Linked DNA regions of Homo sapiens. The protein of the gene in region 5 purifies or fractionates together with the protein of the main gene of each other region. This does not show direct contact. Each region holds a gene or a part of one and is shown on either strand. Other genes may lie near its edges.

Region 1 (6,899 bases), about 22 Mb from region 5:
ATGTCCAAACAATAAAAGGAAAAAAGCCATGCAATCTTTTGTTTCTCTTTCCCAATTTTGAATTATTTTATTTTTCCTTTTTGTGTTATCAAAAATTTGGACTAGGATATATAAACTTTTATAAATATATAAACCATGTTTCATGGACACAGGGAGGGAAACAGCACACACTGGGGCCTGTCAGGGAGTGGAGTGCAGGGAGGGAGAGCATTAGGAAAAATAGGTAATGCACGCTGGGCTTAATACCCAGGCAACAGGTTGGTAGGTGCAGCAAACCACCATGCCACGTGTTTACCTATGTAACAGACCTGCTCATCCTGCCCGTGTACACCAGAACTTTAAATTTAAATTTAAATAAAAAAAGAAACTGAGCAAAATAATATTTTCATGATTCTCATTAAAGATGTAACTTTTGGAATTGCAAATACATATGTATATATTATGGTATATACATACATATATATACATATACACACACACACACAGACATACCACATTTCAGACATAAATGCTCATTTTACATGCCATCCTTACAAGACAATAAAAAACTGCATATTATTTTCAATTATAAATAAAAATGATTTTGAAATGAAATAATTATTTTTTAAAAAAACACTTTTCTTGGCCACAATTACATATTTAGCTAAAATGTTTTAAAATGTATGTGTTTCCTCCTCTGTGACTTACCCTTACCAAACTCAGATGACAGCATCAATATTCCACAGAAAGCATCTGAGGAATACATGTGTTTCATGTATCTGAGGGAACTTTTATGTAGCTTTTATAGCTGCTACAGTAATATTTAGAGAATCCTGGAAGGCTTACGTAAGATTTCTAATTCCCAATCCTCATTTAAAAGACATACCTTTGAATTTACAAGAATAAATCAGCGATCTGTAACATTACCTTGAACCTCTAATTGGTTGTAAAGTTGCAATAGATAATGTATTCTTGTTTTTTTATACACATTTTGAAAAGATTATCAGAACAAGACAAAAATAGAGATGCAAAACAGAAATTTTTGTCAATTCATAAATTTCAAAGTTGGAAAGAACTTAAACTATATCCTTAAAGGAGCATCTCTTCTATGATATTCCAGGTACATTGTCTTTCAGCCACCTAATTAACCCCACCATAACAGAGTATTCTCTGGGCATGTTGTTTTATAATTGGAGAGTTCTAATCATTATCAAGTTTGTTTCTATGTTGAGATAAAATAAATAATAAATATTATTTGTTGAGCTTCTACAATGAAATATCCTTATACTAAGAAAAGTATTTAGTGTTTATCTAAAATTCAGATTGAACTGGGTATTATGTTTTGTTGTTGTTTGCTAAACCTGGCAACCCTAACGATGTGCTATGCATCTTACATTCACTATAGTTATAGTGTAATGAAGCTACTAAGACTGTCAATTTTAAGCCAGATGGTCTAGTTCAAATCCTGGCTCTGCCATTTGGTGGTTCCCATAAGAAAGTTACTTAAATTCTCTGAGCCTCAGCTTCCTCAGTTGGAAGATTAGCATCTATCTTCAAGGATTATTTTAAATGTTTAATAAATAAATATAGGTAAGCAAAGCTGATATCCTGCCCAGAAGCCCGAGCCAGCATCTCTTGACTCACTGGACAACCATTCTGATTCATCAGTGCTATCTATCCCCTATGTCATAAAATATTTTTATTATCAATATACACATTATGCTCCCTAGAATAATGCCAGTCACATTGTGTGTATAATAAAAGTTAGCTACTATTGCTGTTATATCAATTTCCATGCTAACTATGAAATGGGAGCTATTATCATCCCTTATTTTACAGATAAGAAAACTGAAGCTCAAAAAAGTTAATATGCCCATAGTCATCAAGATAATCTTATTTCAGAACCTTAGCTCTCAGTCATCATATTTATATGGTCTCTTTATAATAACTACCTATTGTTCTCTTCTGCCCTCTTTAGCAATTCAGAATGAATCTAATCCCTCTTTCATACAATAGCTCTTCAAATATATAAATGCATTTTTCACTGCTATTTTTGTATCTTCTCTTCAGCATGCTAAATTTTTGTCAAATATCACAATGCTTTTTTAAAATTATTCACTCACCTGGTTTTCTAAACACCCTGAAGACTGTTCATCTCCAGTGGGTTTCTCAATTGCAGTCAATGCATCTTTCACCATTTTGCTTACTTCCTTGTAAGTGGCTTCTTGAACAAACTGGGCAAAAAATATGGTAGCCCTGAAACAAAAATACGTGTGAATCCTTAAGGAACAGACCTGCAGCAAGCTTATTTTTCTCAAGTATAGTTTTTCATTTGTTTGTTTTGTTTTCTATTTATGTTGTAATCTGTTTAGACATTTGATTTGTAAAATTATGTAAAATTAGCTTCCAGGTCATCTGAGAAGAAACTTTAGTCTTTTTCTTGTTTTCTTTTGCCATAAATATACATATAGATGTTAAAGGCTAAAATAAGTGGATTTCCCATAAGAGTGGTTTCTCCTTCTGTGACCATCCATCTACTGTAATGTACCCATAATTGAGGGTATCTATATTCTTTATGGTTACTTTTAAATTTAAGCAAAAAAAAATTGGTAATTAGACAGACCTCTAACAGTGTCTATTCCCAGTATGATCAAGGTCTAAAACCCAAGACTACAGTGCTCATGGATTGACTCAAAGCAATCCTTATGCAGGTTTGGATGTGCAAGGAGTAACAGCAACACACTACTTTAAATTCTTTGTTAGAAATTTTTAAAATGTGGAATGGAAAGACATCCAAGAGACTAACATACTCTCCACAAATAACAGCAAATAGAATATTTTATCACCTATGGTTTGCTGCTAAGATTTAAATAGTATACAGAAAAGAAAACATTATAATATCACCCTGTTGGTACTGATGAGAAAAATTCCTGAATTAGTATATGGCTGTCACTGATCAGACACTAATCTTCAGTTTCTAAAATCTGATTTGGTTTGACTCATGAGATTTCAAGGAATCAAAAGGTCAATGTCGAAGACATTAGTCAACAGTTTAACCTCTTCAACATCAAGTTGATATTCAGTATGAGTAACTTTTCTTGAAATTGTCCAAATTGCTTTTGTGCTTTTAAGAGCTCACAGGGGTACCCAATTTTATTTAAGTATTTACTTATCCTTGCTTTACACATTTAAAGTACATTTATATAAGCAAAACTTACAGGTCAGCTAAACTTATCTCTGCAGTACATTGGTAAGAATCCAATATGGAAGCTGGAAAGCAAAATAAACTTCATGAAACGTGTTTTCAACTGCAACCAAGAAAGTAATCATTGTTACATATGAATGTTTGTGTTTCAGTTAGAACTGTACAGTTTCAGAATTAAAAGAACATTAGGGATAACCTAAGCATCTTAATTTTATACTTGAGGAAAAGAAAACTAGGAAACTAAGGAATGAAGTTAACAAGCATAATTTATAGTAGACCTATCACTAAAATCCAGATTTTGTCTTCCAGTTGTTTGGTTTTTCCCTGTACTGTAGTGCTGTAACTGTCCTGAAAGTCAAATGGTTAAAAATATATTTCAGGCATTCTTTTGAACATAGTTATACTACGGTTTGCCATTCATATCCCAGTCACAATATTTCTTCTTCAGACCATCAAATAATGACCCATTTTTCTGTATTAAAAACAAAGATTTTATCTATTTTACTAGTCTGAGGGAGTTATGTGAAGGAGCATAATTCTGGCTTCTTCACATATAAAATTTTATTTATATTCATATATATGTACATATATGTGTATATATATAATTTTTCAAAGTTAATATGCATACCATTGAAGTGTAAAAATTAATTCAACATGAAACATACAAACCATTCATCCATTAAACACTGCTATAACTTTGTAAACCTCTTGTAAAGTTACAAGTTTATCTTTCATTTAAATATATCCATCAGTTAAATATTTTTTCTCCATGTGGAATAATAAATATGAATAATAAATCAAGACAAATTAATGCAAATTTTATAATTTAAAAAATTTTGATATAGAGAAAAGACAAGAAAAACACAAAATATCTCACCTATTCCATATTCATTTCTATGCAGTGTTCTGGATTCAGTAAAATTTAGTAGGAAAATTAAAAAAATTGATTCCACCCACTTCATGGTTGCTAGTTATTTTGTTATTGGCAGTGGTGGAAGCACAATATGGAAAATCATGCTGAAATTCTTTTATACTCTTTTCAGGCAATGCCTGTTAACTAGTAACCTTTTGTTGGTATATCTGTTACTTTATGGTATTTCCTTAGGTTGAAAATGGGACATTTGCCAATAATTAACAGCATAGCGGTTATTTGTATTTTATGTTCAAGGACACAGAGCTCTTTGGGGCAGAAAAAAAAAACTTGCAAACTTATTTTATTTTGCAAATATAACAAATATTCTCCTCAAACTACAGAATATTCAAAGAGATGACTTGTCCCTAAGTTGCAGAATAATTAATTTCTCTCAAATTAAGTTAATGAAGCCATAAAGAAAAGACAGCAGATTTGGTATGCAATTCATCTAAATACATTAATTCTTTAAAACTATTAAATGCCTATCATATGCCAGGCACACAAGACATTGTCTGACCAATTCAGACTCTTCATCTTGCAAATATAACAAATACTCTCAAAGTACAAAAAATTCAGAGAGATGACTTGTCCCTAAGTTGCAGAATAATAAATTCATTTCAAATTATCATTGCTTGATAATTATGCTGTCATTGTTTAGCTCAGAAACACTTTTCACTTAATATGTATGTCAATAAGGTACATTTTAAAGTATTTAGTATGCGATGTATGGCTTAACATAGAAAACTTAGAGCACAAGCCCTAATAAACCAAGTCCTATAATAATTTTATTTGCACATGTGTCTTTATAAAGTGGGTCAGGTGCATCATTCACTTAGCAACTCAAGATGATGATGTTAATACTAAATGATGGATGCTAAGAGTGGCTCACCTCCTATCATCCCTGTCTACAAGGGTTCCCGATCTTGGCTACACATTAGAATCACTGGGGGAACTTTTTGAATTCCCAATGCCTAGTCTGTAACCCAGACCAGTTAAATCAGAATCTGTGGAGTTGAGACCCAGGCACCAGTATTTTCTAAAGCTTCACAGGTGTTTCATTATTCTAAAGGTAAGATTATAAAATCAAATAACCCACACCAGGAAATAAATTAATATGGTACATTCATAAAGTAGGGTGATATACAGCCATCAAAATAACTTTGTGGAAGAATATTTAATGAAATGGAAATATGCTCATAATATATTGTTAACTGAAAAACAGGACAAAACAATACATGGAGAGTGCTCTCATTTGTGTATCATTGTACCTCCTCTGTATTCCTCCCACCCTCTAAAAAAAATGTTGAATAAAAGACAGAAATAATGGACAACAAAGTTTTAACATTGGGTTTCTCTAGATGGTAAGATAAGTGAATTTAATTCTATCTCTCTCTCAAAACTTCTTCAATGAAAGAGCAGTATGCAATTTTAAACATAAAATTTTTAAATAAGCTAAGTACAGTACTTAAAAAATAGATCATACTGCAAGCTACTAGGGCACACATTTAAACAAAAAGGGTTTACCGTCAGTAGCACTTCCAGCAAATACAAACATTTATCATAGTATAAACAAGGTCTTCAATGCTAATCAAGTACAATTCCCATTCATTTGTTAGTTTTTGTCCATTTTCTGCTATGCGTGTCTCTCCTAAGTTTTGTCTCCTAAGGAACATGTTAACAAAACAGGCCTTGCTCACGTACTCTCCAGAAAGAGGTAGCACCATCCTTGTCTATCCGTTTGGATTCCAGGATAGTATTTACAAAGTGCAGTTCTTCTACTCTTCCTCAAGGGGGACTTTACTCAAATATATGAAAGCCAAAGTATTTGTTATGAAGGAATACCTGAAAAGCAATAGTCATGAAGTATTAGTTATGAAGAACTGAAATAGAGTTTTATGAAGCAAACTATATAAGCTTGCCCAAGCATGGGCAAAATATCCCAAAGGCTTTCACAGTGTCTGGTTCATAGCCAGGACTCAGCAACATTTGATGAATGAATAATAAATGTATTTGTTCCAACATGGGTTTAATGTAGAGAAAGGGGTTACATTTGGCAAATCCCAGATTCTATAAAGTCTGAAATCTTTATAACTTTACAAAACATATTTCAGCTTTTCTGATATACATATATAGATATAGATATAGATATAGATATAGATATAGATGTAGATATAGATATATCATCTTCAAGGCCAAGTAATCCAATCTGATCATCTCATCAAAAGATTAGAGGGGACAAATGTAAAAATGCCTGGCAAATGGTAGGCCTTTAGTAAATTATGACTATTTCAATATTACAAATATATATATAAAAATACACACACAACTACAAATAATATGTACACATCAAGCCAATGTATGTTGTGTCAGCCACCAGTTCATCAAGATGTCGATGCGACTACACCAGGAGTAACAACTTTTCTATCAGTTCAGGTCCTGTTTGGACTTTTCCTCTGATATTATGCTGGTTTTGTGTCATCCTCCAATCTCCTTCCATATTCTGCCTTACGGAGCAGATGTCTGCATTCCATGCCATATGATCAGAGAGGCAGTATAGCACAGTATTAATCACGTAAAGTTGGGGAACTGGTTTGAATTTTTGCCCTGTCACTTAGCTACATGACTTTGGGTGAGTTAATTCATTTCTCTGGGCTTTATCTTTATCAACTATAAAATAAGGATAGTGATAGTACCTCCTTCATGGTTAAATGAGAATTAAATAAATCAATAAATATAAATGCCTCAGAACCGGGTCTTGCACAAAGTAGCACTCGATAGATGGGGTTTTATTTATTCATTCAA
Region 2 (5,119 bases), on a different chromosome or scaffold from region 5:
TAGCTCTGCCATGAAGGAAATGCAAATTAAAACTGCAGTGAAGGCTGGGAGCAGTGGCTTATGCCTGTAATCCCAGCATTTTGGGAGGCCAAGGTGGGCAGATCATCTGAGGTCAGGAGTTCGAGACCAGCCTGGCCAACATGCTGAAACCCTGTCTCTATCAAAAATACAAAAATTAGCAGGGTGTGGCGGCACGCACCTGTAGTCCCAGCTGCTCAGGAGGCTGAGGCAGGAGAATCACTTGAACCCAGGAGACAGAGGCTGCAACGAGCTGAGATGGCACCGTTGCACTCCAGCCTGGGTGATGGAGTGAGACTCTCTTTAAAAAAAAAAAGAAAAAAAAAAGGGCTGGGCGTGGTGGCTCACGCCTGTAATCCCAGCAATTTGGGAAGCCGAAGCGGGCAGATCACGAGGTCAGGAGATCAAGACCATCCTGGCTAACACGGTGAAACCCCGTCTCTACTAAAAATACAAAAAAAAAAAAAAAAAAATTAGCCGGGTGTGGTGGCGGGCACCTGTAGTCCCAGCTACTCAGGAGGCTGACACAGAAGAATGGCATGAACCTGGGAGGCGGAGCCTGCAGTGAGCGGAGATCGAGCCACTGCATTCCAGCCTGGGCAACAGAGCGAGACTCCACCTCAACAATAACAACAAAAAAACAACCAAAAAAACCAGTGAAATAGCAGTTCAGACCTACTGGCAAAATCAAAAAGAGAGATAATACTAAGTGTTAGTAAGGATGTGGATAAACTGGAATCCTAGTGCCTTGCTGGTGGAAATGAAAAACGGTACAGCCACTTCAGAAAAGTTTGGTGGTTCCTAAAAATGTTAAATGTAGAGTTACCAAGTAAACCAGCAATCCCACTCCTAAGTCTACCCAAGAGAAATGAAAACACATATCCACACAAAACCTTGTACAAAACTGTTCACAGCAGGATTATTTATAATAGCCAAAGAGTAGAAACAACTCAAGTGTCCATCAACTGCAACCTCTGCCTTCCGGGTTCAAGTGATTCTCTTGCCTCAGCCTCCCGAGTAGCTGGGATTACAGGCGCCTGCCACCAAGCCCAGCTAATTTTTTCATTTTTAGTAGAGAAAGTGTTTCACCATGTTGGTGAAGCTGGTCTCGAACTCCTGACCTCAAGTGATTGGCCCACCTTGGCCTCCCAAAGTGCTGGGATTACAGGTGTGAGCCACTGTGCCTGGCTCTTTATAGGAAATAACTAAAGTAGGCAAATCTGGCCAGGTGCAGTGGCTCACTCCTGTAATCCCAACACTTTGGGAGGTTGAGGTAGGAGGACAGTTTGAGGGTGCAAGTTCAAGACCAGACTAGGCAACATAGCAAGACCCTGTCCCTACATAAAACAAAAAAGTCTGGCTGGGCATGGTGGCTCAGGCCTATAATCCCAGCACTTTGGGAGACCGAGGCGGGTGGATCATTTGAGGTCAGGAATTCGAGACCAGCTTAGCTAACAGTGAAACCCCATCTCTACTAAAAATACAAAAATTAGCCAGTGATGCGCACCTGTAGTCCCAGCTACTCAGGAGGCTGAGGCAGGAGAATCTCTTGAACCTGGGAGGCGGAGGTTGCAGTGAGCTGAAATCGTGCCACTACACTCCAGCCTGGGTGACAGAGTAAGACTCTGTCTCAAACAAAACAAAACAAACAAACAAAAAACCCAACAAAAAAATTAGCTGGGTATGGCAACACATGCCTGTAGTCCCAGCTACTTGGGAAGCTGAGGTGGAAGGATCCCTTGAAACCCAGGGTTCATGGCTGTGACCTAGCCTGGGTGACAGAGTAAGATGCTATCTCTCCAAAACAAATTTTTTTAGGGGCCGGGCATGGTGGCTAACACCTGTAATCCTAACACTTTGGGAGGCCTAGGTGGGCGGATCATGAGGTCAGGAGTTTGAGACCAGCCAACCTGGCCAACATGGTGAAACCCTGTCTCTACTAAAAATAACAAAAATTAGCTGGGTGTGGTGGTGCGTGCCTGTAAGCCTAGCTACTCGGGAGGCTGAGACAGGAGAATCGCTTGAACCTGGGTGGCGGAAGTTGCAGTGAGCAGAGATTGTGCCACTCCACTCCAGCCTGCAGCAACAAGAGCAAAACTCCATCTCAAACAAACAACAAAAAAAACAAAAAAACTGACTGTGGTGATAGCTGCACAACTTTGTGAATATGCTAAAAAATGTACATTATACATTTGAAGGAGATAAACTGTATGGTATATAAATAAAGCTGTTAATAATTATATATATATATATATAAATTTTTTTTTTTTTTTTTTTTAGATGGAGTCTCTCTCTGTCACCAAGGCTGAAGTGCAGTGGCACAATCTTGGCTCACTGCAACCTCCACCTCCCGGGTTCAAGCAATTCTCCTGCCTCAGCCTCCTAAGTAGCTGGGATTACAGGCGTCAGCCATAACACCTAGCAATTTTTTGTATTTTTAGTAGAGATGGAGTTTCACCATGTTGTCCAGGCTGGTCTTGAACTCCTGACCCCCTACCTTGGTCTCCCAAAGTGCTGGGATTATAGGTGTGAGACACAATGCCCAGCCTGTTAATAATCTTTTAAAAATATTATTATTATTTTTTTGTAAGTGTACCTCTATGTGGTTCCTTTACTTAGAAATCCTGGAAGACTCCCTGCTGACCATGTACCACCATCTAAGCCCTTCAACTGGGCAAGCCAAGGCCCTGCAAAGTCAGGCTTGGATCATCTTTCCAGGCTCACCTTCTATGGCCACCCCCCTCCAATCCAGCTACAGCAGGCTTCTGCTTTCCTGCTCCTGTGCCCTTCCTCAGGCCTACCCTGCACTGGGCTGCCCTTCGCTGATCCAGAAGTCTTACTATGAGGTTTTGGTCCAGCTCAAATGCCAGTCCACCCATCACATTTTCTTCCCTGCCTACTCCCTGCAGAACTATTACATTGTATTCAATGTGTTGGTTTGGTTCTTCTGTTAGATTGAGAACTTAAAAAATGAGGTCTTATTCCTCCTTGTGTCCCTGGTGCTTAGTCCAAGCTCTCACTCTTGTGGGCCTCACACTTTGTACCTCAGTCTCTGCCTTCCGGGCTCAAGTGATCCTCCCACCTCAGCCTCCCTACCTATAGGCATGCACCTAATTTTTTGTAGAAATGTTTTTTTTGAGATGGAGTCTCACTCTGTCACCCAGGCTGGAGTGCAGTGCTGCGATCCTGGCTCACTGCATCCTCCACCTCCCGGGTTCATGCAATTCTCCTGCCTCAGCCTCCCAAGTAGCTGGGATTACAGGCATGTGCCACCACGCCTAGCTAATTTTTGTATTTTTTTAGTAGTGATGGGGTTTTGCCATGTTGGCCAGGCTGGTCTCGAACTCCTGACCTTAGGTGATCCACCCGCCTTGGCCTCCCAAAGTACTAAGATTACAGGCATGAGTCACCGTGCCCAGCCAGATCTGTTTTGTTGTTGTTGTTGTTGTTTGTTTGTTTGTTTTAAGACAGAGTTTTGCTGTTGTTGCCCAGGCTGGAGTACAATGGCACAATCTCAGCTACAGGTGCCCACCGCCATGCCTGGCTAATTTTTGTATTTTTAGTAGAGACAGAGTTTCACCATGTTGGTCAGGTTGGTGGTCTTAAACTCCCTACCTCAGGTGATCCACCCAGCTCAGCCTCCTGAAGTGTTGGGATTACAGGCGTGAGCCACTGCGCCCAGCAAGATGGGGTTTTACCGTGTTGCCCAAGCTGGTCTTGAATTCCTGGGCTCAAGTGATTCACCCATCTTGGCCTCCCAAAATGCTGGGATTACAGGTGTGAGCCACCACACCCAGCCTTCATACATTTTTATCAAATAAATCATGACGGGTGAACCTCTACTAATTTTACCTAAACCTGCAGGGTTTCTGGATGTCCTAGTGATGGTCAAGGACTTCACGTTGAAGCACTGCTTCCCAAGTCATAGGCCTAAGAAACTCCCTTTGTGGATGACGCAGCTGCTTATGTAACACATGCCCAGGGAGCTCTGCTTCCCCTCCACTGTGCTGCAGGTATTCCTGGACTAGGTTTGCCAGAGAAAGCCCTTGAGAGCCTTGACAAAAACGAATGGAGGGGACAGCAGATTAGTTACAAGGCCCTACCTGCAAAGCTTGAGCCATGGGACTTATCAGCAGGGTCCTGGCACATACATGAGGCCAGCGTGAGCAGCCTGAGTGAGCAGTGTGGGTTCAGACCTGCAGAGACAGCTGCCACCCTCACCCAATGCTCCACATGGGAAGGAGGCTCAGGGCTCTATCTGACACTTCAAAATGAAGATAGATTTTATGATAACTGTCCCAAGTTTTAATTGTTGGTTCCTTACATGCTGTTCTTATTCGAAAGAACAACAAATCCTCATGTGGCCAATGGGTGCTCCCAGTTGGGCCCTCAAAGCCATGGGAAAAGTCTCTGTTACTATGTGGACAGCACAGTGCATGGTTTAAGAGCACTGACTGTGGAGTTATTCAGACCAGGTTTTAATAATACACACTTTGTGAACTTAGGTAAGTTCTTAACCTCTCTGAGCCTTATTTCAACTATAAAATGGGATAAAGATATAGCAGCTGCATTAGAGAATGGTTTGAAGACTAGAGGAAACCTGTACCTGGTACACTGTAAGCCTTAGCTCAAGAGATGCGAGTTACCCAGAGGAGCCACTGACCAATGCCATGCTTCTCCATGAGGGCAATGAGGTCGGCCTCGGTGAGCAGCTTGGGTGGGCTGGTCTCCCCGTCCACCATCTCCACGGTGCTGGGCTGAAAGTGGGATCCTTGCTCATAGACAGGGAGGATCTACAGGGAGCGGCAGGTGCAACAGTCAGATGATTCCATCAGCACACTCAGGCAAAAAATAACCTCATTTCAAGGAACATGATCCTGCTCCACTAGAGAACTCAGGGCTCACAACACAACTGTCCTCCCTCTCACTGGGGACCACTCTTTATTACCTTGTCACTCCAGTGATCATATGGATACACATCCAGATAGTTTCGGGCCAGAATCATGAGGCCATGGGCCACAAAGCGTTCCTGAGCGATGTCGATCTCCACTGTGGTCTCCTGCCCCTGAGCATCCTGGGAGCAGCAAGCCAGGAAATGGCG
Region 3 (4,955 bases), on a different chromosome or scaffold from region 5:
AAAGTTGCATATGATGCTTGGATGAAAAGAGATAAATGCATATTCTAGGGAGGGAAAAAAGATTTGAGAAGTTGGCATAGAAATTAGTCCGGCAATATATAAGAGTATATGTTCTGCTTTGCCTGGCACTCACTACTGCTTCTCTGGTTTAAAACTCTCCAGGTCATTTAAGGGCCATCAACCCAGAAAATGGCTTTTTCGGTGTCGCTCCTGGGACTTCAGTGAAGACCAACCCCAATGCCATCAAGACCATCCAGAAGAACACAATCTTTACCAATGTGGCCGAGACCAGCGACGGGGGCGTTTACTGGGAAGGCATTGATGAGCCGCTAGCTTCAGGTGTCACCATCACGTCCTGGAAGAATAAGGAGTGGAGCTCAGAGGATGGTGTGTCCCTGCCAGAGGCCTTGGTGTGCCGGGCTGCAGGGACTGCCTGTTTGAGCCAGGCACTCACGAGCCTTTCTCTGTCTTATAGGGGAACCTTGTGCCCACCCCAACTCGAGGTTCTGCACCCCTGCCAGCCAGTGCCCCATCATTGATGCTGCCTGGGAGTCTCCGGAAGGTGTTCCCATTGAAGGCATTATCTTTGGAGGCCGTAGACCTGCTGGTGAGGCTCTCCTTCATTTAGGCTGGGAACATGGGTGTGCTGGGTACCGAAGGGCATCTGTGAAATCTCTCCTTTTCCATGACCTTGTCAGAGGGTGCCCAGGGGCTTCCTTTCTTGAGCTTCCTTCCCAAAGATCCAGAATAATTGGCAAGTTCAAATGTAGAACCAACCCTTCTGGTCACCTGGAACCTTTCTGAATCCCTGATCTATTGTAGCTTGATCAAATTTTACTTTTTACTTTGTGGCCTCAGTCATGTAACTTTGAGTTAGCAGTTTTCTGCAATTTAGCTTGGTGAACGCAAAACTAGCTCGATTACAAAGTTATTGTCTTGCCGTGTCTTTCCGTGTTGTGAATAACACCACTGGTTGTGGAGTCTGAATTTCAAAGCCTCTGATGAACATTTCTCTTTTTTTTTCCTGCTAAAGGTGTCCCTCTAGTCTATGAAGCTCTCAGCTGGCAACATGGAGTCTTTGTGGGGGCGGCCATGAGATCAGAGGCCACAGCGGCTGCAGAACATAAAGGTAAATCAAAGTCCTGATCTGAAACCACAGAGAAGTGGGATTAGAGCACTCTTCGTCACTCTTATGTCTCTCTCCTTTTCTGTGTCTGTGTGTGGGGAGAGAGAGAGAGAGAAAGAGAGAGAGGAGAACAAAGCATGCTAATGTCAACAATCAATGGCGTCAGTCTTGCCTAGGAGAGCCTCATTTACTAATGAACTCCCTCTCTGTTTAACAGGCAAAATCATCATGCATGACCCCTTTGCCATGCGGCCCTTCTTTGGCTACAACTTCGGCAAATACCTGGCCCACTGGCTTAGCATGGCCCAGCACCCAGCAGCCAAACTGCCCAAGATCTTCCATGTCAACTGGTTCCGGAAGGACAAGGAAGGCAAATTCCTCTGGCCAGGCTTTGGAGAGAACTCCAGGGTGCTGGAGTGGATGTTCAACCGGATCGATGGAAAAGCCAGCACCAAGCTCACGCCCATAGGCTACATCCCCAAGGAGGATGCCCTGAACCTGAAAGGCCTGGGGCACATCAACATGATGGAGCTTTTCAGCATCTCCAAGGAATTCTGGGAGAAGGAGGTGGAAGACATCGAGAAGTATCTGGAGGATCAAGTCAATGCCGACCTCCCCTGTGAAATCGAGAGAGAGATCCTTGCCTTGAAGCAAAGAATAAGCCAGATGTAATCAGGGCCTGAGTGCTTTACCTTTAAAATCATTCCCTTTCCCATCCATAAGGTGCAGTAGGAGCAAGAGAGGGCAAGTGTTCCCAAATTGACGCCACCATAATAATCATCACCACACCGTGAGCAGATCTGAAAGGCACACTTTGATTTTTTTAAGGATAAGAACCACAGAACACTGGGTAGTAGCTAATGAAATTGAGAAGGGAAATCTTAGCATGCCTCCAAAAATTCACATCCAATGCATAGTTTGTTCAAATTTAAGGTTACTCAGGCATTGATCTTTTCAGTGTTTTTTCACTTTAGCTATGTGGATTAGCTAGAATGCACACCAAAAAAATACTTGAGCTGTATATATATATGTGTGTGTGTGTGTGTGTGTGTGTGTGTGTGTGTGCATGTATGTGCACATGTGTCTGTGTGGTATATTTGTGTATGTGTATTTGTATGTACTGTTATTGAAAATATATTTAATACCTTTGGAAAAATCTTGGGCAAGATGACCTACTAGTTTTCCTTGAAAAAAAGTTGCTTTGTTATTAATATTGTGCTTAAATTATTTTTATACACCATTGTTCCTTACCTTTACATAATTGCAATATTTCCCCCTTACTACTTCTTGGAAAAAAATTACAAAATGAAGTTTTATAGAAAAGATGGATTTGCTTTGCTTGGTTTTTCTTATTTGAGCTACCAAGAGGAGAGAACTCTGATTAAATATCTTGTGATTTAAATCCTGCCCCCTCCCCAAGAAGGTGGGGACGTTCAGAATCACACTTGAAGAGGGGGTGCATTGCCTGGTCCCAGGGAGAAGGAGGGAGCAGATGGGGAGGAATGAGGCAGGGAACCATGGTTGGGGTTTTCTGAATTTGCTGAAGCCACTAGTTGGCATCCTTTAACAATTCTACAAACCTTTAGATGGTGAGGCTTATGTGGCAGGACTGGGAGGGTTTAATGCATGCTTTTTGACAGTTTGGATCTGGAGGGGTCTCAGGCTTCCACAAAAATTACATTGTGGACAGTTTCATAGGATTTTGCCTTTTAACTCTTCAAAGCAACAGTTTTCTCAACTGTCATCCCCGCGGGGGAGCAGAGGAAGACAAGTGAGAAGGAAAAGGGGACAGGATCTGGGTTGAGCAAGCATTAATTGAGCGCCTTCTGTATCCCGGACATCATGCCAACACCATGGGCTGCCCGAGAAGAGAGGTGGGTGGTTTGGTCCCCAGCTCTGCCTTGAACCCTCACCTGCTCTCCTCTACTCCCAGTGTTTATTGGATATTCCAGAACAGTCCAAACGAACCATAAACTTTATATCACAGATTCAATCTGTGTAAATACTATTATCTTCAAGTTGTAGTTTCTTTCTTGGGCCCAGGCTGTGAAATTGGCTTCACCCCTACCACACCCCAGCGGGCAGGCTTGTTCTTATGTCACACTCCACCCCTCCAGTCTCCTCAACTGGAAAACTTGCCTCTTTTCCTCACTTCCTCTGCTCCTTACAATGGCTTCATATGGAAGGTGAAGCTGAGATCACCCCAATTTTACAGGTGAGGAAACTGAGGTCAAGCTAGGAGCGTCCAGCGGGGCTGAGAAATTGCCAGGATTTCCTTCCCCATTAAGGAGCTGAGAGTCTTAGCTCCAGACACGTTGGCTTGTTAGAATATCAAAACCACCGAAGGGGAAAAACCACTTACTGGAATTAAATGCTATCTGCTGTATTAGTTTAAATCAGTGGCGTTCAAACTTGTTTCTCCTTTTCACTGCGGAACACGTTCTTGACATGTACTTGACTCAGAGTCCCATGTCTAAAGGAGACAGAGCCCAAGGCAGCCCACCTGAAGCTGGGGAGGGAGTCCAAAGTGCAAGCCACCTGGTCTCCATTTCCCCGCCCCTTGGGGGCCTTTGGGCAGCTCCTTGGACCCCTGAAAGAGGCCACCAGGATAAACTTTGTTAAAATGCATGCCTTGTGCCCCACTGTCCTATTACGGGCTTTCAGTAGTCTCCACTCCCTCGGCAGGCAAAGACACTGGCCATCTCCAAATTCCCTCCCCTCCTGCACAGCATCAGCCACCTGGCAAGCAGTCTCACATAGGACCATTTGCCAGCAGGCCCTGCAAGCCTGGGGGACAGCCTAGAGGAGGTGACTTACATACACAGCATAAGAGTTTTCAGGAGACCAAAAAGATTCAATATATGTCATTAACTCCTGACTCAGTTTCCCCAAACCATGCCTCCTGAGTGCTCCCTCTGTCTCCAAATCCTGATTTTTGTGCGCGGACCCCTGTCTACAATAAACAGGATCCTATGACTTCTTTCTTCAATGTTCTCTTGTCGTGCCTTCAGATGATGCAAAGTATGTAAGCTAAGCCCACTTGCAGGAAGCTCACAGAAGGCAAGAGGCTCATCACTTGAAAATACGGTTGGAGTGAGATGGAAAGCCCAGAGTCTCCTGATTCCTGGTCTACCACTGGACCACATGACTCCAAAACCAACACTGTGACTGACGTCCTCTACTGGAGTCCAGTGTAAGAGCTGTCCCCTGACCTCCAGGAAGCTGTGTTGCAGTCTGGGTTAAAGACCAGAAAACAATAGTTACACAGCAAATGTTGAACCAGGACAACAAACCTGCCCTTATTCCCAGTCGAGTCACTTAGGGGGCACTGACAGGTAGGCAGGCGGGGTGGCTAGGTGGGGCCGGGGCACACTTGGGAGTCAGGAGTTACAGGGCTCTTTCTCTTCTCTCCCTCTCCCTGGGGACCCACCCTAACCTGGACACCCCCGGGCTGCTCACTCGGCCCTCTGGATGCCAACAGCATGCACCTTCCAGAGTGCACGGTTTTGGCTGTAAGACCGCAGGTCATGGGCCCTGTTGAGCTCCCTTGACCTGCAGCCCTGCCAGAGGGCACCGAGCCAGGGGAGCAGCTTTTGCTTTGTCCTCACCTTTAGCAATTGCAGCGATGAATTCATCTATGGGAAAGAGCTGGCCACCTGCTTCCTCCCTCCTGCCCTTTTTCCTTCCCTGGGGGCAGTAAACACTGACAACCTTGAACACAGCAGAGCTCTGCCGCTGGCCAGTGGGGTCTTCTTCTGTCTCCTCTGTGCCACTGGGGTCATATTACCTCTGGTGGAGTTCGATAAGGATGAAATAAACTAGCCCAGCG
Region 4 (6,199 bases), on a different chromosome or scaffold from region 5:
ACGAAGTAATCCTTGTAATGCCCGTCAATGAATCCTTTTCCACTGTTGTGCACAAACCAGCAGGTAACGTCCGTTCCAAACACTAGATCCGTTCTGTAGTCTTTCTGTAAGCCCCTGCAAGGAAGCAAGGCATGTGGTTAGGGGGAGACTGAGCACCTCTAGACACAAGACTCCCTCTTTTCCTTGCTGTTCTTCGTGTTCCTTCTGTCACCACATCTGCCGCCCCCCACCTATCGCTGCTCCCCAAGTCATGTGAAAAAGAAACACCAAGTCTGGGGCTTGGTGTTGGAAGCACAGAGAATCAGCGAAGCGTCCTTGGAGAACTCAAAGAACCCTTAGAGTTGACCTATATGGGCTTTTCCAGCGAGGGAAACAGTAGCCAATGGAAAGAAGGCAGGAACAAGACTCCACAGTGTTGAGGCTGACCTCACAGGTCACTTAAAGAATGAGTCAGCAGCCAGGCATGGTGGCTCACGCCTGTAATCTCAGCGCTTTGGGAGGCTGAGGTGGGCGGACCACTTGAGGCCAGGAGTTCAAGACCAGCCTGGCCAACATGGTGAAACCCTGTCTCTACTAAAAATTAAAAGAAAAATTACCTGGGCATGGTGGTGTACGCCTGTAGTCCCAGCTACTTGGGAGGCTGAGGCAAGAGAATTGCTTGAACCCAGGAGGTGGAGGTTGCAGTGAGCCCAAGATACGTCACTGCACTCCAGCCTGGGCGACAGAGCAAGACTCTGTCACTAAAAAAAAAAAAAAAAAAAAAAAAAAAAAAAAAAAAAGAATGCATTGGCGGCACCTCTTAACTGCACTTTCTCTGTGTTTAAGAGTGATACCTGCTGTTTCTGAGCAGATTCATGTCCTCCACTTGAAGGGCAAAGTAGCCAACAATTTGTTAAGGATCTCGTTCACACTGCGTGAACGAGACTTAAAAGTATCACTGTGCCCAGCCCACGGGACAGCTCAGTTTCAGTTATGAACCATGAGGTGCTTGCAGTGGACCAAATCGAGGCCCAGCATTTACTTTTTGTCATTATAGTAAATATATATATATATGTATACATATATTTATTTATATATGTATATATAAATATATATACATATTTTATGAGATGGAGTCAGGCTGGAGTGCAGTGGTGCTATCTCTGCTCACTGCAACCTCTGCCTTCCGGGTTCAAGTGATTATCCTACCTCAGCCTCCCGAGTAGCTGGGAATACAGGCGCCCGCCACCACACCCGGCTAATTTTTGTATTTTTAGTAGAGATGGGGGGGGTTTCAACATGTTGGCAAGTTGGTCTTGAACTCCTGACCTCAGGTTATCCACCCACCCAGGCCTTGCAAAGTGCTGGGATTACAGGCGTGAGCCACTGCGCCTGGCCTATTTATATATTATGTATTTATTTATGAGACAGGTCTCTCTCTGTTACCCAAGCTGGAGTGCAGAGGCACAATCATAAGTCACTTCATCCTCGAACTCCTGGGTTCAACGGATCCTCCCACCTCAGCCTCCTGAGTAGCTGGGGCTATAGGCAGAATCTACTACACCTGGATAATTATTTTTATATTTATTTTTATTTTTGTAGAGATGGAGTCTTACTATGTTGCCCAGGCTGGTCTTGAACTCCTGGTCTCAGGTGATCCTCCCACATTGGCCTCTCAAAGCATTGGGATTACAGGCATGAGCCACCATGCCTGGCAGTAAATGCCCTTCTACCAACTTCAGATAACTTACTATTAACATTAATAATTTGTGCTCACCATTGCTTCTGTGACACATGCTCACTGATTCCCGTCGGTACCTCATTCCTCCCATAAACTGATACTAATTGAATGGCATATTCACTAAGAATCCATTGTTTCAGTTCACAAATCTACTTTCGTGGCAATACTTCCGACTACAATTTTATGTTACAATGTTATGGTTTAATTAAGTATGTCAAAGCCAATGACATTTGTGGGCGTGAAGAATCCTTTCTAATAAAGCAAAGTTGGCTGCTTTGTAAAAACTCTAAAAAGGGGTAAGCTGCTTTAAAACGGTATCAAATTTGGCATGGGTGAGACAACTGTAAAGGACTGGGAAAAAATATCAAGATTTGTAAGACTTTTACACTCAGAATGCGTTATGAGCGTCTAAGTTCTCACTTCAGATGAAGCATATGGGGGTGGTTTGTGTAAGAAAAGCTACAAAAAAAGCAGTCAGAGATCCCTGTGCAAAAGGAAAACTCTAGCCTGATGTAAAAATCTACATTCATTCTGCAGCACTATGGTAATAGGTGTTTTATGATTCTCTCCTTTGATCAACGTGTCTGGTTATCCAACTTGTGAAGCTCTTGTGAGGGCTTCTAAAGTATGAAGATGAGAACAACAGGTTAGTTAATCTTGGCATTGCATGACCCTAGATACCCAGTCATTATTTGCATTTAACGTGGGATATCAGAAGTGTCCTTATGCGAATGCTGTGTGCGTCTATTCCTAATGAACTGCTTAGTGTGATGTAGGTAGTGCCTACGACACTTCTTCTTTGCTCCTCTATTTTGCTGTGTGGGTCTAATTCTAACACAAGGCCTTTTCGTCACTGTCCTTACGCCCGAGGCCTACCTGGTGATGATCAGCTTCTGCCCCTTCACTTCCATGCTGGCCTCTGGCTTCTCAGGGTCCTTTCCTGGTCTCTCATTGAAGATGTGTATCTTTGGTTCCTGCATGAACTGGCCTAGCAAAACAGAATCAGACATTGATTGACATGTAATCATAGTTAAATAAAAAGAGGCTCATTATTGACTCCATGCTACCTTTCGGTCCTCCCTCCAGGATTTCTAGGGTGGAAAGACAAGCTGAGAGGAAAAAGGAGTGGTGATGGGAGGGAGGGTCCTTCCTGGGAGCACATTTGTGCTGCTCACCATCTTTTTTTTATTTTTATTTTTTTAATTTGAGGCAGGATCTCCCTCTGTTGCCCAGGCTGGAGTGCAGTGGTGCTATCTCGGCTCACTGCAACCTCCACCTCCTGGGCTCAAGTGTTCTTCCCACCTCAGCCTCCCAAGTAGCTGGGACCACAGGCGTGAGCCACTACGCCTGGCTAATTTTTTGTAGAGACAGGGTTTCACCGTGTTGCACAGGTTGATCTTGAACTCCTGGACTCAAGCGATCCACCCACCTCAGCCTCCCAAAGTGCTGGGATTACAGGTGTGAGCCACTACTCACAGCCTTTTTTTTTTTTTTTTTTTTTTTTTTTTTTTTAAATTTAAGATTTGGGGCCGGGTGTGGTGGCTCACACCTGTAATCCCAGCACTTTGGGAGGCCGAGGTGGGCAGATCACCTGAGGTTGGGAGTTTGAGACCAGCCTGACCAACATGGAGAAACCCCATCTCTACTAAAAATACAAAATTAGCTGGGCGTGGTGGTGCATGCCTGTAATCCCAGCTACTCGGGAGGCTGAGGGAAGAGAATCGCATGAACCGGGGAGGCAGCGGTTGCGGTGAGCCGAGATTGCGCCACTGCGCTCCAGCCTGGGCAACAAGAGAGAAACTCCATCTCATAAATTAATGAATTAATTAATTTAAGAGATGGAGTCTCCCTCTGTCACCCAGGCTGGAGCACAGTGGCACAGTCATAGCTCACTGCAGCCTCCAATTCCGGGGCTCAAGAGATCCCACCTCAGCTTCCTGAGTAGCTGGGACTCCAGGCAGGCTCCACCATACCCTGCTAATTATTTTTATTTTCTAATTTTTTGGTAGAGATGGGGTGCCCAGGCTGCCCTTGAACTCCACAAGCAAATCCACCTGCCCAGGCCTCCTAAAGTGCTGGGATTACAGGCACGAGCCACCATGCCTGGAGCTCATGGTCATTTTATACATGAGGTTGGTCTAGTGGATTGTAAGTAAATCGAGCACCCTGATGGCAGGAGAATGAGGTGAGCACCTGAGAGTATAGCTCAGATCACAGGAAAAAGTTTTGTTTGTGATGTCACAGGCTTTATATTTGAGCCCTTCTTAAAATACTAGGGACATTTGTCCAGAGTGTTCTGCTTGTTATCACAGACCTCCTAAATGGGTTCATCTTGCTTCAGTTAGAAAAAAATCTTTAACATAAAACTTAAAATGTATCTGTCCCTTCTCTTAACTTGCCCAGTTTGTGATGCTGAAATCCTGGCCCTGGACAACCTTGTCTGGAATGGCAAAAGGTCCTGGCTGTCACATTCCCGAGCGACCCCACACTGCTATGTTAGTCCTCTGTGCTCATGAGTCCACACCTGCCATGTCCTCAACTTGTAACCACTGTCAACCAAAGCTGCTAAAGAATTAGAGCGGCCCCACCCTTGTCAGATGGTCAATAGACACTTTACCTATTAGTCCGTGGGCTTTAGGTGAGAACTTGTTTGTAGGGGGTATGTAGATTCCCAGAAAGTCAACATTGACGGGATGCTTCTTCCAAACACGATGAAGTAAAACAGAAAAGGACATCTCTTTATCCAGGGTGATAGTTACCACTTTTTCTTTCTTCACTGAGATCTGCACCCTGGTGTGAAAGTCCAAGAGGAATTAAACCATTCCAGAACAGACCTTTTGAGAAAGTCATTCTTCTCACCCCTAATATGAACTCTTCACTCCTCCCAGACAATTCCGCTAGTTATCTAAGCGCTTGCAACAGTTTATAGATAAATGATGGATTAACAGAAACTCATTGGGAAGCTTCTACGCAGAGGACACAATCATGGCGTTTGGAGCTCACTCTGCGATAGAGTCAGTATGGATTTCAGCTGGTGGATTTGTTCACTGATTAGCACATACACAGTGAGTGTTTACTGATGCCAGGCACTGGACTAGGTCCTGGGACCCAACGGTGACCAAAAACACACAGTGCCCACTGCCAGGAACAGAGTAGGGAGTGAGAACAATTTTTCTGAACCTCAACTTCCTTATATTTAAAATGATGATTTTTTTTCAATGTTGATGTCACTGATGCCTGGATTTATTTATGCAGTCGTGTGTCACGGACAGGCCCAAGTTCAGATGGAATCATACTTGCCTCTGATTCGTGACTTGAGCCGTGTCGGACCAGGACAAGGAGAATGTGCTAGAACCATGGCTCAGGGTGATGGTCTCAGTGCTGATTTCTATTTTTATGTCTTCACTTTGGAAATAAAATCCCAGTTTTCCAAAATAGGTGCTTAGTTTTCCATTGTTGGGCTTCTTGGCACCAACAAGCTGACCGTTGACTACAATTCCTACAGGAAAGAAAAAAATGATGTTTTCTCTTCTGTGCCATTTATTTTGCATGTGTGGGTACTATAATTCAAATTTATAAAAACTTGGCAATATTGGAAAATTATTATAATTTTGCTTCAAGATTTACATTAACATTTTCTTCTTTGTGATTCTCATTTTATAACATGTTAATATAACATTTATAAATTTTAATAAAATTTAATTTAATAATTTTATATCAGTTATAAAATTTAATTGTCAGTTTATAAAATTTAAATAATTGACTATCATATAGTATTTAAATTTTTTGTTGTTGTTTTTGAGACGGAGTCTTACTCTGTCACTCAGGCTGGAGCGCAATGGTGTGATCTTGGCTCACTGCAACCTCCACCTCCCGGGTTCAAGCAATTCTCCTGCCTCAGCCTCCTGAGTAGCTGGGATTACAGGTGTGTACCACCACGCCTGGGTAATTGTTTTTGTATTTTTAGTAGTGGGGGGTGGGGTTTCATCATTTTGACCAGGCTGGTCTCGAACTCTTGACCTCAGATGATCCGCCCACCTCGGCCTCCCAAAGTGCTGGGATTGCATGTGTAAGCCACCGTTCCTGGCTCATATTTAAATTAATTATATCACAACAAGATCTGCAAGTTCATACTCAGAGTATATATTTTGAACTATAATGGTTCAAAATAGTTAAGAATATATTTATAATTTAATTTCTCACTAATATCACTGAAATATATAGAACTTCTATTAAGCTGAGAAAGAAAGAAATCCCAGGCAGTGACAGGAAAGCATGACAATGACCTAATTGGTGCAAATATAATTTATTTTTATTTTACCTGATTCTGGGTCAGAAACCAGGTTGAGGATTTTTCCAGGTTCTGAGTCAATATTGAAACAAATGTTCTTTTGGCTTTTTGGTAGATAAATGATGAAATGTGGGTCATTTTCAACTGGAAAATATACAAAGAAAACGTAAACAAAATCATTAAAAGGA
Region 5 (6,980 bases):
TTATCTATATTTAGCAAGTCACCCCTAATTCTTTTAGAATAAGGCAGAAAATAAATCAACGTAAAGGTTGAGACCAAGCCAGAGACAGCTGGCCAAAGTAGCTGGTTCAGGGATATAACCTGCAAGTTGCCAACCCAGCGCATTCTTCTCACCCTTCTTCCACCCTACGAAAGGCCATATCTTACAAGAGATGCTGGTAAATGCCAGACATTCACTGTGTCAGGCTTCCTCACAGCTAGCAGTGGCATGAGATCAGTTCAATCCAATGACACTGAAATGGAACTCTCCAAAGTGAGTTTCTGCAAAAGACTTCTCTGTTAACAGGGAGTTATAAGGAAATATGCACCTTCCTTCCCTGCTTTCCAATCCAGGCATGATGTCTGGTGCTACGGCAACCATACTGCAAACATGAGGCAAATGAGCCTGAGGAATAAAAGCTAAAACACTAATAGAAGAAGAAAAAGATGCAGAACCTAGATCCTTAATGACATCATTAAGCCACTGCACCAGCTTTAGAACCAACTACTTCTAGGTTTCTTGCTACCGAACAATAATAAGCCCTATTATTTAAGCCATTAATTTGAGCATTGTATTGGCAAAGGCATCCTAACTGATACAAGAGATCATCATGAGGTCAGTTTCTCACAGGTTGATTTTTATACTGCTAAGTTAGCAGGATTATTAGCTATTAATTATTAGTTATAATTAGCAGATGATGATTGAGATAATAATGTAAACGTAGCCAGGAAGAAGGTAATAAGCCAAGAAGAGCTGCTGGGAGCAACTTAACATAAAAACAGAAAAGGAGACAATGATAAAGTTTGAAAAAACATGATTAAGTGCCAGTAGGGGTACACAGAGTTAACAACAGAGGAAGAAGAGAGTGAAGTCCACTAAGAGAAAATGAGGCAGGCCTTCTTTTCTGGCAATGTTACAGACAAGATTACCTAAAAATCCTTCTTAATATAAAACAGTCAAAAATTCTGGATAACGTGTAAGAAACATCTGTTTAAATGCACAGCTACGTTCACAAGAAAATAAAGGACCTCCCCAAGCGCCAAAAATCAAAAAGGAACCTAAAAACCAGAGCAGAAAGTGTGTAGGAGCCTAGGGCTTTGGGGAATGGAGGGAGGTGGGCTATATGTGTATAAAAAGCACCTGCCCTTTGGGATATAATAGAACAAAAGAAAAAGAGAAAGCTATGACTAGCTTCATATTTTCTTTAAAAACACCATTTTGAAGACAATTATAGCTCTTGCATGTTTTTCAACCTCATCACTTTACCCTCTGCAAGAAAAAATTCCAGAGTTAAGTGCACATTTTTGTACATATTTTTATATTACCAAGAGTTTCCTGGATATTTCACCACACGATTAAGTAAAATATGACAGATAGATATAAATGATCTCCACAAGAACACCACACACATTGCCCAATTTTTCACTCATCATGAAAAGAACCATCAAACAATCAAGTATCCAAGTTCAGTATGTTTGTAACCACACCAAAAGGTTTACAAATCTTAGGACTTCTTGGTAATATTTTTATCATCAGAAAAATTACAATATTCTTCTAATGACTATGTTGCAAGTAGTTTCATAATACCTTATATATTACATACAAAAATCTATCATCTCTGCATTAATCTTAGCCTTCTACATTACAGATTCTGGAGTCCCTTCCCTGTAAACAGTAAAGGGAACTGGTGAAGGATGTGACGTTTAGGGAGTCTACTTATGGAGAGGAAGGTTTCTAGTATTAAGGAGAGAAGGAATTGCAGCCTGCAGCTAATAATAAAACAAGCAAACAAAAAAAGTCTTATGGTTCTCCACTTTTTACAGTTTTCTTCTATTCTCATTTGCTTTCCAAGCTTCTTCGAAAATTGAAGACGTCACATATTACCTTTGCTCACCTTCACATTTCCACCCTAAATTCCACTAACCCACCTCCATCACTCATTTCAAGACAGTTATTTTTTCAAACACCCCAAGAAATACCAACACATAGTTTATATTATCGTTACAAGGGTTACGTGTACCTCCACTGTGTTCTCATATTTATGCAAGGGAATGCTGGAACCCAGTGCTTACACACACTGGATGCCAAAATTAAATACACCATTCTAAAGGCTGCTTTACATTGTGTTGCTTCTTAAATGTTTTCCCACAACCCGTGCGCATGATGGTACAAGACCAAGCATTTATTCCACAAGTAAGGCCACAAAATGCAGGGGGAAATTCACTTGGGGACCAAGAACCTAAGCGTGAAGAGGGCTGCGCCTGGCGTGGGCTCTCCCTCTCCCAAGGGAGAAGGGCTGGGGAGTCGCTCCGTCCCTGGGAACTCAACCGCCTCCCGAGAGCGCGCAGGAGCTGGCCGGGGAATAAAGCACGAGTTGGCCGAGCAGGAAGGCTCCAAGGGCGCGCTGCATGCCGGGACCCGTTTCCACAGTTACCCACGTGCACCCAACCCAACCGCGGCCGGGCGCGGCCGCGACTACAAGTCCCAGAATTCGGCGGGACCGCCTTTCCCCTTCATACCCGTTGACTGGAGACAAACCCTAAAGGAAACCCCTCAAGCGCCCTCCCAGCACGCCTGGGAGAAGTCGCGCCCCCCGGGCGTGGGGCGCGGCCTAGGGCCCGGCCATCCCTCTAAGGAAGCGGGTTCCATGGCACCAACCCCCACACCTGATAGCCAGAAATTAGACAACTGCGTCACAGACTATCAAACCCACGGACTGCCAGGGACCCCGACACCTCCCCGGCGCCAAGCCCCCGACCCGGCCATCAGGGCCCGACCCCTCCGGCTCCCGCTGCTGAAACCCCGCAGCCCGCACCCCTGCCCCGCCTCCTAGTCCCGCTGCCGGAGCCCGCGCCAGCGCTGACCTCGCTTCCCGCCGTCCGGGGGGAACCACGGCCAGTTCCAACCTTAGGGCACTTACCCCGTCTCCTCCACCTCAGCCCCGCCCCCTCCTCTCTCCGCACCCCGAAGCTTGGACTCCCCCCTTCAAGGGACCCTGCCTCGACAGGGAGAGGAAGTACCTCCCCTAAGCACAGTCTGACACCCCCTTAGCCCGGCTCCGGACCGAATCTGGACGTGACAGTCCTCCTGCCCAACTCCGCCCCACCTCCCCTTCCTCCCCGACTAGCTCCTCACCCCCATTTCATATTCTCCACCCCTGCCCCCACTCTGCCACCCCAAATCCTACCCACCTTTTTCTCCTCTTCCTCCCAATCGCCCTACCCTTCCACACCTGCCCCATCTCTTTACCCCAACATCTTCCACTCCCACCACTCTCCGTTACCCACCGCCCTTCCAACGCCCCTCCCGCCCCGCAGGACTCCCCAACTACCATTACACCCCAGTCCCTCCCACCACCTCGCTTTCCCGTTACATCAGCCCTCGTCCAGTCGCCCGCCCTCCTGCCCCGCTCGGCCGCTGCCCCCATTCCCCCACCCCATTGTTCGCCGCCCCCCCCCCACCCCCCCGCCAACCAGCCCTTCTTCCCATTGTCCCCGCCCCCGCGCCCCCCTCGCACTCACCCGCCTTTCTCACGGAGCCGCCCGCACCACTCAGCCCTTTGGAAATCCTCACCCTTGTGCCCCGCTCGCTCGCTCGCTCCCTCCCTCTCCCCGCCGGTGCCACCCCCCCACATCCCCGGCCCTGCCCGCTACAGCCCAACGCTGCCTCCACCTCCATGCACCCCGGACACTCCGATCTCGGCCCTTCATCGCACGTCCAGCCCTCCCTTCCCCCAACACTGAAAGAGAGCCAGTCCCCACCCCCCTCACCTCCGCCCTCCCCGCAGGCCGGTCCCTTCCCCCCACGCCCGCCCCCGCCCCACGCCGCCCGCAGCGTCACCGCCCGCCCCGGCCCCGGGAGGGGAAGGGGTGGTTCCCAGGCAGGGGCTCCCGGCGCGTTTCGGGACCCGAGGCGTGGGGCGGGGACTGCGGGAGCCGAGTGGCGAGTTTGGCAGCCGCCCGGCCCCGGCCCGCTGGCTGGCTCTCTGCTACTCACTGACAGCGGCGGCATCCGAGTGCATTTTCAGGCAGCTCACACCCGGCTCGCCGCCCAGGCTCCCGCGCTCGCCTCGCGGTCCCCCCACCAGCTCACTGCACCTCGGCTCGAAGCTGAGGACCCGCCGCCGGGCACTCCCAGCCCGCCCATCTCGCCTTCTCCATTGGCTAAACCGCGGCTCAGGGGCCGCCCTGCTGCGTCTCTCATTTGACAAAAGGAGTGCCCATAGCGCCGGTCTGGAGCTGGCAACGAGGCCCCGCCCCCCACTGGCCAATACGATTGGTCCTGGGGCCTTGTCTCCGTAACGCCCCTGGCGGAGGCCATGCTCCGGAGCAGCGGGTTGGGCCCGGCTGCTGTCAGTCACCCCCAGGGGTCCGAGAGCGCGTGTAGGGGCGAAGCTGGGAAATTGGTCCACCTTGACCCTGAAACCCCGCCCAGTGGCGGGCGGGATTGGTGGAGCTGGAGACCCACCAAGAAAGATGGGTCGGCGTCTGAAACAAAGCACGCGAAGTGTTTCCCAAAGAATAGAGCAGCGCAGCGCAGTTGGGGGCGGCTCGTACCAGCTGCTGGAAGTAGGGAAATGCGTCCGTCCCTAGCGCCCGGCGCGACGCGGCCGGGTCTCCCGCCACTTGTCCCACGACACTTGTCCAGTTCGCGCCGAACTCGGACTGGGACTTCTCTTGTCAGCTGCTTCCTACCGCAGGAAACTGGATTAAGAATTGCCGCGTCTTAATTTCCAGCAAACCTTCTGGTGGGGAGCAAATTTCCATTTCTCCTACGAAGATCCATCCTCTCCCCACTTTCGAAATGTACTTCTTTTCCAGAGTCCGCATACTTGTTTCGCAGAGTTCGCACACTTCTTTCCTCTAGTCACTAATGTCTGTTAAAGAGGCTTCGAATGCCACGAGCATTGTCCGTCACACACATCTGTATGCCCCAGACATCAGACAGAAATACAGGGCCGCGCTCTGAGCTGCGGACTGAGCCTAACACATGGACGAGTCCAGGGGGCAGACCACCAGCCCGTGAAAGACCCCCGGCGGCATCTAAGAAAACCTGTCACTCCCGCGGAGAGGCCGTCCAGAAATTGAAACTGGCTGTTATTTGGCAGAGGGAGACGTTAATTTTGGTGAATTCTTCTGACCCTAAGTCAAGAATTCGCACCATTTCCATGAGTCCTGCCCTGATTTTTCAATACTTGAAGCTAACTTATCACACCGCATTATGGTAACAGAACAATATTTCGAGATATTAACGGAGGATTCCCCCCACCCCAACCCACCCCCACCCTACCCTGCCTCCACCCTCATCCCAGCCACCAACTCCAACAACAACACACCTACAAGGCATCCCCATATCCTAAGGCCCTGGGCCATCTGGGAGCCTCAAAGAGTAGGTGACACCACAAATCACAGGTAACAGAACGCACGGTCTTTTTGGTTTTAGATTTCTACAGCCCAGGCTTTTGGGTTTCCAGGCTCTGAAATTTAGATTTTAAATCAGGACACAAATGTTATGCTATTTGGAAGGGGCTCAGACAAACCAGTTTCTGTGTCCCACAGCACTCCCATGGTAAAATGCTCCCTCCATCTTAATCGCTAATTTCTCTTTAATAAATTACATCCTTATAATACTATTTATATAATATTTTTATCATTCAAACATTTATGAATCACTTTATGGAATCTCAGAACTGTACCTGAAGTTATTTATTATTTGCTTCAGGTTCTTTCGCAAGACAAGAATCTCTCATAGAACATCCTTATTGATCACCTTTATCATGACAGTACCTCAGCGGGGCCCCACAGTGATGGGTAGGTACCTCTGGACTCTGAGATAGGGGATTGCTTGTTGGGCAGATCTAGCAGTAAGAATATCCGCCCTTACTCTGAGCAGGGAAGCTGCTCCTGCATTCTTTATTCTATTTATGTTTCAGCTTAATCTACATCTAGGAAATAATAAATTATATGTCATTTAATACAAGTTTCAAATCTTTTGTGTGTGTAATATTTATGATTTTTTTTTTTACCGTTTACCATGGTACTTCAAAGACTGAGACACATGTTATTTTGCACAGAAAAGGGCTTCCTTCGTGACACCTCTAAATTACAATAAGCCCACAATTAATTATAGCTAGTCATTTGCTCTATTAATTTATTTGCAGCATACTTTATAATAATGTGTATAAGAGTTAAGCTAGATGAAGGATGGGTCGGCTGCTTTGCCCCAGCTCCCAACACTGGCCTGGCATATGCATGGTGTCCATAAAAATTTATAGAATGTACAACCTCTGTTATTTCTCAACATTGCTTTCAGTTGAGTCAGTATGATTATTTTCAAGTAGAAAACAGACTTAGAGGTAATTTACCCAGATCTTTATAAAGAGTCAGCTATAGCCTAAGGATTGAGAGGCAAAGCTCATTCCTAGTCGGCTGACCCTCACTGCCCCCACGTTTTACAAAGTATAATAAAATGACTACATAATGCTCTGCAAATATTACCTGGTCATTTAAATAATCCACACCATATAAACCTCTGATATCAGGAAACTTGTTATAGTTATCTTTTTACTTGCCTAGCACCTAGTACAATGCTTTCAAATATTGTGGTAGGCACTGGTTAACCATACCCCTTAAAATGAATGTTTACCGTACATGAAATTTTAGATCTGGATAGGAACCTTGGTGATTATCAAATCCAACATCTTCATTTTAAAAATAAGAGACTTGACATCCAAAGGAGTTAAATGTTTAATCTGAGTCACTTGGCTAGTTGATAACAAAACAGGGCTTAAATTCAGGTTTCTCAACTCTATCCCCTGTACCACACTGTCTAATATCAAAGCTTCAAATTCCAAAGATAGGTAAACTACTCTCCCTTCCCATCTGAAAGTTACTATGCCAATCTAATACAAGTCTGCTTCATGGTTGAAATGTTGCCTTCTTTTTTATGTATTTCATTCAGGA

Evidence for each region.
Region 1: the proteins of DCUN1D4 (region 5) and AFP purify together in Homo sapiens (affinity purification with mass spectrometry; one large-scale study listed by BioGRID and IntAct). This does not show direct contact.
Region 2: the proteins of DCUN1D4 (region 5) and TOP3A fractionate together in Homo sapiens (co-fractionation; one large-scale study listed by BioGRID). This does not show direct contact.
Region 3: the proteins of DCUN1D4 (region 5) and PCK1 purify together in Homo sapiens (affinity purification with mass spectrometry; one large-scale study listed by BioGRID and IntAct). This does not show direct contact.
Region 4: the proteins of DCUN1D4 (region 5) and ITIH2 purify together in Homo sapiens (affinity purification with mass spectrometry; one large-scale study listed by BioGRID and IntAct). This does not show direct contact.

What each region holds. Positions count from the first base shown.
Region 1 is NC_000004.12:73,433,510-73,440,408, reverse strand, and holds the start of AFP (alpha-fetoprotein isoform 1 precursor), read right to left. Parts: upstream 4,189-6,899; 5' UTR 4,147-4,188; coding exon 4,062-4,146; intron 3,250-4,061; coding exon 3,198-3,249; intron 2,236-3,197; coding exon 2,103-2,235; intron 1-2,102. UniProt on the Homo sapiens protein: Binds copper, nickel, and fatty acids as well as, and bilirubin less well than, serum albumin. Only a small percentage (less than 2%) of the human AFP shows estrogen-binding properties.
Region 2 is NC_000017.11:18,285,876-18,290,994, forward strand, and holds part of TOP3A (DNA topoisomerase 3-alpha), read right to left. Parts: coding exon 4,967-5,119; intron 4,812-4,966; coding exon 4,682-4,811; coding exon of another isoform or gene 4,647-4,681; exon of another isoform or gene 4,625-4,646; intron 1-4,624. UniProt on the Homo sapiens protein: Releases the supercoiling and torsional tension of DNA introduced during the DNA replication and transcription by transiently cleaving and rejoining one strand of the DNA duplex.
Region 3 is NC_000020.11:57,564,007-57,568,961, forward strand, and holds the end of PCK1 (phosphoenolpyruvate carboxykinase, cytosolic [GTP]), read left to right. Parts: intron 1-162; coding exon 163-387; intron 388-475; coding exon 476-607; intron 608-1,033; coding exon 1,034-1,129; intron 1,130-1,343; coding exon 1,344-1,798; 3' UTR 1,799-4,115; downstream 4,116-4,955. UniProt on the Homo sapiens protein: Cytosolic phosphoenolpyruvate carboxykinase that catalyzes the reversible decarboxylation and phosphorylation of oxaloacetate (OAA) and acts as the rate-limiting enzyme in gluconeogenesis.
Region 4 is NC_000010.11:7,743,102-7,749,300, reverse strand, and holds part of ITIH2 (inter-alpha-trypsin inhibitor heavy chain H2 precursor), read right to left. Parts: intron 6,156-6,199; coding exon 6,042-6,155; intron 5,220-6,041; coding exon 5,021-5,219; intron 4,511-5,020; coding exon 4,338-4,510; intron 2,709-4,337; coding exon 2,597-2,708; intron 115-2,596; coding exon 1-114. UniProt on the Homo sapiens protein: May act as a carrier of hyaluronan in serum or as a binding protein between hyaluronan and other matrix protein, including those on cell surfaces in tissues to regulate the localization, synthesis and degradation of hyaluronan which are essential to cells undergoing biological processes.
Region 5 is NC_000004.12:51,840,302-51,847,281, reverse strand, and holds the start of DCUN1D4 (DCN1-like protein 4), read right to left. Parts: upstream 4,130-6,980; 5' UTR 4,040-4,129; coding exon 4,015-4,039; intron 3,711-4,014; exon of another isoform or gene 3,697-3,710; coding exon of another isoform or gene 3,540-3,696; intron 3,282-3,539; exon of another isoform or gene 3,210-3,281; intron 3,039-3,209; exon of another isoform or gene 2,939-3,038; intron 2,911-2,938; exon of another isoform or gene 2,883-2,910; intron 1-2,882. UniProt on the Homo sapiens protein: Contributes to the neddylation of all cullins by transferring NEDD8 from N-terminally acetylated NEDD8-conjugating E2s enzyme to different cullin C-terminal domain-RBX complexes which are necessary for the activation of cullin-RING E3 ubiquitin ligases (CRLs).